Linked DNA regions of Homo sapiens: region 2 is linked to region 1. The links come from fine-mapping of genetic effects on gene expression. A gene starts in region 1. The other region holds a variant in brackets. All regions are shown on one strand. Distances are from middle to middle.

The links.
Region 2: its variant is fine-mapped to the expression of ASB14 in unexposed skin (GTEx, PIP above 0.99). The same link has a PIP of 0.9 or more in sigmoid colon, subcutaneous fat, sun-exposed skin and tibial nerve.

What each region holds. Positions count from the first base shown.
Region 1 is chr3:57,290,161-57,294,567 of GRCh38, reverse strand. ASB14 (ankyrin repeat and SOCS box containing 14) reads left to right here and starts at 1,883. Exons shown (of 11, transcript NM_001142733.3): 1 at 1,883-1,935; 2 at 2,464-2,656. The coding sequence starts at 2,535. DNAH12 (dynein axonemal heavy chain 12) reads left to right here. Exons shown (of 74, transcript NM_001366028.2): 74 at 597-868. The coding sequence ends at 787. LOC124909384 (a long non-coding RNA gene) reads right to left here and starts at 1,777. Exons shown (of 2, transcript XR_007095923.1): 1 at 1,176-1,777.
Region 2 is chr3:57,267,292-57,271,698 of GRCh38, reverse strand. It overlaps APPL1 (adaptor protein, phosphotyrosine interacting with PH domain and leucine zipper 1), which reads right to left. Exons shown (of 22, transcript NM_012096.3): 20 at 3,907-3,957; 21 at 3,212-3,301; 22 at 1-2,158. The coding sequence ends at 2,012. It overlaps ASB14 (ankyrin repeat and SOCS box containing 14), which reads left to right. Exons shown (of 11, transcript NM_001142733.3): 11 at 2,081-3,357. LOC105377102 (a long non-coding RNA gene) reads right to left here and starts at 2,133. Exons shown (of 3, transcript NR_135535.1): 1 at 1,948-2,133. The variant T/C (reference allele first, on the strand shown) is at 2,043.

The sequences.
Region 1 (4,407 bases):
GAGTTTTCTCATGCCTGCTAAGCGGTCAGAACTTTAAAGTCTATTCCTGTCTTCCACACCTAGAATCATGCACCATACGAAATACTTGCCTTGGGCTGGGCGCAGTGGCTCACGCCTGTAATCCCAGCACTTTGGGAGGCTGAGGCGGGCAGATCACGAGGTCAGGGGTTCAAGACCAGCCTGGCCAACATAGTGAAACCCCGTCTCTACTAAAAATACAAAAATTAGCAAGGCATGGTGGCAGGCACCTGTAGTCCCACCTACTCAGGAGGCTGAGACAAGAGAATCGCTTGAACCTGGGAGGCAGAGGTTGCAGTGAGCCGAGATTGTGCCACTGTACTCCAGCCTAGGTGACAGAGTGAGACTCAGTCTCCAAAAAAAAAAAAAAAAAGAAAAGAAAAGAAATACTTGCCTTGTTTCACAACCGTAATACTATATGTACTGTAAAAAAATATATATGCTGTAAAACCTTCATATATCACAATTATGATCTTAGATTTAGTTCTGGCCATTTTATTACAAGATAAATAGTTCTTTTCGTACCAATGGCTGTTTTTCCCTTTATCAAGTGAATATATTTCTTTTTTTTTTTCAAGCTCAAAAATCTCGGATTATAAAGTCGGATGCCTATGTCTGTCCCCTCTACAAGACAAGTGAACGTAAAGGAACTCTTTCCACTACGGGACATTCTACTAACTTTGTCATTGCAATGTTGTTAAAAACAGACCAACCTACTCGGCACTGGATCAAGCGCGGGGTTGCTTTGCTTTGTCAGTTGGATGACTAAATTGGACAAATTTATAAAACATCCAAAAGTTTAAAAAAAAAAAAACCTGTCCTACTTAAAATATATACATTATAAAACCAAGTGTTTTGGTGTTATTCTTTTAAATGATCTTTGCAAACACTCATTGCATTGTTCTCCTTTCTGAGGAGAACTTTTTGAAGTTTGATTGTATGTGAAAAATAGATTTGGGGGTTAAACGGTAACATTTAACAAATATCAGGAATTATCTCCTTCACAAATGTTAAGTCATTCCTTCAGCTTCAGTATAGTTTACTTTCCACTCTCCTACCTAAAGTAATTATACATAAATATTTCAAATACATAAATTAAGAAATTATAAATATGGAAAATATTAAAAGTTACCCAACTATACCTCTTTATTTCTTACCTCTAAGACATCGGTTCCATTTCTCACTGCATCCTTGTGACTAGGAAAGGAAACTCAAAGCTGCGAAGTTGGCCTGCAAAGGCAGTAGGATGGCTTGAGGGCAGTCCGAACTTCTACACCTGCAGTGACAGTGTGCTTCTCGGCATTTGCTTCATATTTAATTTGAAATGTCAAGTGGTCCCTTTGCTTTTTTTAGTGTATATTAACAATTTAAAAATATTTCAACAAAACAGAATTTTGATCAAAATTTTATCTTGTGTAGAGTGAATTCTTCCCTTAGGATTCCAAGGACACTGAAGGCCACAGTTCTGTAACCCAAGGAAAATGTAGTCACAGCTACCTAGTGAATCTAGTACATTGGGACAGTCACTTTGGATAATTGGGTCAGAGCAAAATGTTTGGGTTCTCTTAAGTGAAAAATTGATTGTGGTTTGCAGTGGCTATGTGCATGAATTCTCTTTGCATGGCCAACCCCCTGCAAAAGCATTTTATTCCAGGAATAAAATATTTAATCCTTTAAATTTGATGAATGTAGCACTGAAGAAAAGAGATCATGTTTCCAAAAAGAGCTAAACCACATGTAAAAAACAAGGAGAATGTGCCAAACTGTCTTATGATGAAGTATTTATAGTAAAGCTATTAATGGAATGGTCACTACAGGGGAGAGGAGAGCCTAAATATAAATGAAAATTCTGAGGCTTACATGTGTTAGTCCTTAACAGTGAAAACTTCACTGCTGTCCTAGAGGATAAAACAAAAGGTAAAAAGTCTTTGAAATGTGACCAAATGTATTCTATGCTAAAACTGACATTTTTCTTTTAAAACCATTTAGATATTGCCTAGTAAGATACATTTGTTTTTACTACTGCTGTATCCATGTTGTAATTATGAGAATACATTTGTTCCTATAACATGTTTATTTTTAATGTATATTAAGTAAAATATTATTTTCAGCATCACACTGTGTGTAGGAAAGATATTATTTTGGATGAGTGCTACAATCACTGTGAAAGACTCACAGCCAAGTTGAACAGATCAGAGTGTTGTCAGTGTTAGAGTGGCACTAACCGAAGTCTTATTTGAAAGGTGGTTTTTCCTGAATAAGCTTTAAGTCAATGGCTACTCATGGAAACTTCTAATTTTTGTTGAATCTGTGGCAGTCCACAAAACTTTTTTAAGTTTATAGAAATTTTTTAGTGAATATTTTGTTTCCTAAATTTTGTATATTTTTCATTGTTAATCCTACCAATTTTCTAGATTTCTGAATTTCATTTGTAATTTTAAGCAGTTGATCTCTTCACAACTGGAAAAATACTTTTAATTCACTCTGACTTTAAAGTAAACCTGTCCACGTTTCACATGGATAATTACACCAGCGATGAAGACATAGATGAAGACTTTGACACCCAGCTCATCATTCAACAGAGTTTGCAGGATATTTATAAGCCAGGAACAGCACAACATGCACCTAAGGATGAGAGGTAATGGTTTTCTCATCGGCAATATAGTATTAAGTGTTGTATTCAACAGCTGACACTTGTCATTAGCTTAACTCTAGTGTTGTGACAAAAACAGGAGGGTCAGAATCCAAGGAGCTGTCAATTAAATATCTGTAAGATATTATGCCTAACTAGACAGGAATAATCTGGAAATAATTCAGAATTTAATTAGGCAATAAAAATATCTGAAGGAGGTTAGCAGCAAATCTGGGTGAGGTGATACAGACTGGAAATCAGAAGAAAGAAAGGAGGATATGAAGGGCTAGAGAAAAACTAATACATCTTGTCTTTGGGAATTGAAGAAATGCATAAATCCAACCGGGACACATAGAAAGTTAGTTATCTTCAACCTTAGTAGGGTAGGTGGGGATGGGGTCCAGTCTTTGATCTACTCAAATCAAAAGGAGGAATTACATAAACTTGAACAAGGCTTCTGAAAGTGTAGATTCAGAGTTTTGTTGGACAACACTGAAAAAGGACCAGTGGGACCCTGTGTGGGGTGTAAGAAGAATCGTCCTGGATATGGCACACCTGCTCACACGCTCGCTGGCCAATCAGCAACCTTGGTCTCCTGAGGCAGTAACCATCATTTTTTCAGGGGTGATAACCCAGTTTACTTGGGATGGTAATCTCTATTTGCCTGCTGGATGTAAAACTAGAAAAATGTCTTTTAACCCCAAGAGATTTCATAACTAAATAGAGACAATGAAGTACATCAAACCTATATAGTATTTTTAAAATGTAACAAACCATGGAGTGATCACTATGTGTCATGTTATTTTAAGCACTTCATAAATACTAACTTTTAAATTCTAATTCTCATTACCTCTCTATGAGGTAGGTCCTATTATTATCCCTACTTAGAGAGGAGGAAAGTGAGGCACAGAAAAGTTAAGTGGCTTACCCAAGGTCACAGAACTAGTAAGTGAAGAGCAAGGCAGTCTGATTCTAAAGTCTGTGCTCTTAGCCACACACTATTCCTATACTTTTGTGTTCAATTTAGGATTAGTTTTTAAAATAATCTTTAAATATTTAAAGTTTTGTAAAGAAATTAGCCTTATTAGATTATCTGTTATATTAACCTTATGATTAAAACCTTAAATTGCATAATTGAGTAACTGACTTTGAACTTACAATTTTAGGTTGAAAGGTATAAGAGAGTTGGGCTAAGGAGAGTATTGAAATGTTTCAGAGAAACTGAAATTGACTGTGGTTATGCATTTACTTGATTAGATTTGCAGGAAGTGTATGATACTTAGGCAGGCTTGCTGATTTAGTCAGGTACTTGAAGGAATTAGAAAACTAGAACATACTTGTGACATGTGGAGTAATGGTCCCATCCAAAGATGTCCTAATTTCTGGAACCTTACATGGCAAAGGAGAAGTAAGGCTACAGATGGAATTATGGCTGCTAATCAGCTGACTTTTAGATAGGGGGTGTACTCTGGATTACCCAGGTGGTCCCAGTGTAACACAGGATCTTTAAGTGTGAAAGAGGGGGAGCCAGGAGAGACAACTTGGGAGATGGCAGTGTTAAAAGGACTAAGCCCAACAATGCTGGCTTTGAAGATGGAGGCAGAGAGTCCACCAGCCAAGAAATGTGGGTGGCTTCTAGAAGCTAGAAAAGGCAGAGATAGAGTCTCCCCAAGAGCCTCCAGAAGGAACAGAGCCCTGCTGACATCTTGATTTCAGTCCGGTGAGGACTGTTTTGGATTTCTGAACTACTAAACTGT
Region 2 (4,407 bases), 23 kb after region 1:
TGACCCAGGGTGCTGATAAAGGGCAGCACTTGCTACCATGCAAAGCACCAGCTTAGTAAAGCTGCCTCCTAATGATGAACACCTTCCTTGTAGAGTAACAGATTTCATCTGAACTAAGTGAGGTGACAATTTGTAGTATAAACAAAAGACTTAATGGAACAGAAAGCTCCAGTCTCCAAAAGGTCTTAAAAACAGGACTTGCCATGACTACTTAAATGCTGGCAACAGAATAAATTCCAACTTTAACAAAACAAAAGAACTGATACACTATTGTGAAAGCATTCCTTTTGGTAAGCACAAAATAAACTTTTTATCAAAAGTATTTCATAAATTTCTACTTTTTTACTGTATGTTTTGGTAACATAAAGCATCAGTAAATAAACATTACACCCATTTGGCACATGGATAGAAGGAATATCATGATCCTATATATCATTATCCTATTCCTACAGAAAACAATGTACATATACAGTGTGAAACAGCTGAGTTATATTTTGAGACCTAAAACAGATGCCATTTCTAATGCAGAACTAAGAAGAAAAAACTGTATATCAAAGAAAAAAAAAGGCTTTTTCCCTTGTAAAATTATTAAAGTCTTAGTGGCTAACCTCTTGAAAAATTTGTAAATGTGTGACTATGTAAAGTATTTTACCCACTATATTAACTTTGTATATATATACTTTTTCATGTGAAACACATGAAAACATAATTTCTATTAGCAGTGTTAAAAGTGATTACAGAAAAAAAATTAAGGTTTAACATAAACAATAGGCAGTAGAGAAATGTTATTTTAACCTTGGCACCAGGTTAAATCCTTCCTTGGTCAACTTCTCCTATACTCTACTAGGCATTCAATTCATTTTCAATCTTTCACAAAATTGGACCTTTTACTCATTTGAAGAGTAGACATATTTACAATAATTAGTGCAAATTATTCTATTATCATACATTAGTTATTTGCCTTTGTGGATATAAAGTGGTGATTCAGTACTTTATCAAAACATGGCATTATGAAAATACTGGGAATATATCAGTCTGAAATTTAAAAGATTACATTTTCTAAACTAAACTCTGGGAATTTTTACTTTAAGCATGAAACATAATTGTTATAGAACTTCTTTTGAAATGTCACTTGACTTTCAATAAAAACTATTTCACACAATGCAGAAAATACAATGTATCATTCCATAGCAGTATCTTTACTTGTCAATCCTAATCTAAAATGTATTGAACAAAAATCTTTTAATAAATTCCAATATCTTATTTTTAACCACTACTGCTCTGCAGCAGTAATTGAAGTCCCAACCTGAGAACTAAGAATGTGATAATAAAATGCCAAGGGCTCTATCAATCTTGAACTGAAGACACTTAAGCTTCTTTCCTACTGGCATCAAGTGCAGTACATTAGAGAAATGTGAGCAATCCCAGAAAGTACCCTGAGATCAACAGTACCACCTGCCACAATTTGAAACCTTAACTGTAAAATCTCTGTTCTAATTATTTTATAAAAGTTCTATTGCACATTTAATATTGTTAAAATATTTGCAAACTTGTAGAATTCTCTGTATAAAGGGCTTTAAACTTATTCAGCTAAATGCTTCCTCATCACCAGCAAAATGTTCCTAATGAAAGAAAAGCATATCCATGAATGTCTAAGCCTGAAGAATAAATGATTTCTTATGGACACAGCCAATTACAATGCAAGAATTAAAAGTTCACAATTTGACGGAAAAAATTCTTGAGCAAATGTAATTCCTCAGCAGTCTGCTTCAGGGAGATGAGCAGGTTTCCTTTAGATGTTAATACATAGTACATTATGTTTAAGGGGGAAAAAAGATCAATGCAAACCTAAGTCATCAAGTTCAATCTTTTTTTTAAAATGTAGCTACAACAAATAAGCAAATATAAAGCTTAATCTCCTCCTTGATATTTCAACATAGTTGTTACCTTCTGCCATTTCACCATAGAAACTGTCAAATTCCAAGGGGGAATATCTACCAAAAGTATAAGCTTATGCTTCTGATTCTCTCTTCTTTCCTCCT[T/C]CTCCCAAATCACTCTCTTCTGACTGGCTACTGCTAAGGACAACAAACTGCCCCTCACTACTGGCTTGGTTTGGTCTACTGGAAGCAGCTATCAACCGACTTTGTTCTTCCAAGTCCTAGTGGAAAAGACAAAAAAGAAACTAAGTTACTTGTCTGCAGTCAAATGGCAAATTATGCAGTTAAGATACATTCTTGAGAGCCACTTCTTCTGTCATAAATATGTATGCATACTTCTGACAACTTGATAAAAAGAAAAGCTACACCCAAACAATACAACACCAAAATGAATTTTGGCACCATCCTATAAAAGCCAGCATTCAAACTAAAATCTAATATTTTATCTTTCTTTTTTTATGACCAACAACCAAATAAAGCCCATCATCAATCATCTCTCACTATATATTATAGTAAAACCCTCGAAAGGGATCACCCCCACACTCCTTTCCCTTCCCCTCTCCAGCCCTTTTCTCCATCCCTGTCCAATTCATCTTTGCTAAATCAGGTGTCACCTTCCCTCAGCCTCGCCTATCAAGAAAGCCTCACTTCAATGTCATCTTTGCCACTTCCCTCTTCTTTGTCCAGAGAGCCAGCCCACAGCCAATGCTTATTGATCTGTTCTAAGCATCCCAGCTGTCTCCTCTTTTCTATTCCTACTGTCAATCTACAACCCATAACACGCTCTTACAATTTCATGGATCATTTAATGCATTCTTCAAGTTTTGCTCTGAAATTTGTCTTTTAAAATTATTCTGTTGGATGGACAATGATTTGACACTCCTGGCAATATTAAAAATATACATTTCATTATATATTTCATATAACATATATATTTATTTATTTCCCCCCCATAGAAGGCAAAATGGCTTTCAGCAATGGCAGTTAAGTCTACACAGCCTCTCAACTGCTTTGACAGAGACAACCTCCTCTGAAATATTAAAGTTCTGGTATATTTTTGAAACAGTCATATTACATGTCAACGTAACTATAATGTAAACATCATATCAAAAAACAGATGTGACCCTTTTCTGCTATGGTATGAATCATCTGTTTATGAAGTGGCTGAACAAGCAGAAACAGCCCTTCATTTGGAAATTCAAATCTGAAAGTCATAGTGCTGAATTAAGTCTTCACAAACAACACATAAAGATCCAGACATTAGGACTGTATACCTTTTCAATCTGTTTTTGTTTATTGAGTTCTTTCTGTTGCTTCTCTTTTACTCTCTCTATTTCTTTTTGTTTTTCTGATGCCCTACGATCCTAAAGAACAGATGAATAAAACTAATGAATTAAATATGAAATAACTTTAAATTTTAGACATTTCAGTTAATATCACATGGTAACCTTTCAATATTTTTTTGCATTTATACATAAGAAAGCACATCAACAGTTTATATTCAATGGTAAACAATTATCCAAATTCTAAATGCTATGTTGGTAATAGTATCACTGTTAACCTTGCTTAGCAAAATCATTTTATTTACTTGCTAATATGAAAGAGCTAATATACTATTTTAGTTAACATTCTTGGAAAATCAAGCATCTTGGATTCCTTTTTTTTTTTTGAGATACAGTCTCGCTCTGTTGCCCAGGCTGGAGTGCAGTGGTGTGATCTCGGCTCATTGCAACCTCCGCCTCCCGGATTCAAGTCATTCTCGTGCCTCAGACCTCCTCAGTAGCTGGGATTACAGGTGCACGACACCACACCCAACTAATTTTTGTATTTTTAGTAGAAATGGGGTTTCACCATGTTGGCCAGGTTAGTCTCGAACTCCTGACCTCAAGTCATCTGCCCGCCTCGGCCTCCCAATGTGCTGCGATTACAGGTGTGAACCACTGTGCCCAGCCACATCTTGGATTCTTACCAGTTCAGCATGCAAAGCTATCTGTTTTGCCAGTCCAACAGAATCACATATCTAAAAAGAGAAAAAGTATGAAAAATTCAGGCAGTTCTCACAACAAAGCAAAAATGTCAAGTATCCAAATAACTGATGGAACTAGTTTTATAACTAATCCTAATACATTGCTTCAAGCAAAAGCATATTTAAGAATGCTCAAGCCCCCAAACCAAGGCTTTGTATGTTTTCCTTGAAGTCTACAGGATTCCACTGCTGACTCTCACCTTCATATATACCCCACTTCTTGTTATGTCAAATTCATTACTGTCACAGTAAGGCCTACGAGGAAGAAGCATGCAGCTGCTAATGCTATTCTCAGCTGAAGACATCTGAAAATGGCTGGTTTTGGTTCCCAACATAATGTTTGGTTCCCAACATAAATGAGAGGCTAAAAGATTGCACCAGCTATCAGTGGCAGGGAAAACATGGGTCTGTAGAGTCAGAAGGCCCAAACCATCAGCTTGGCTC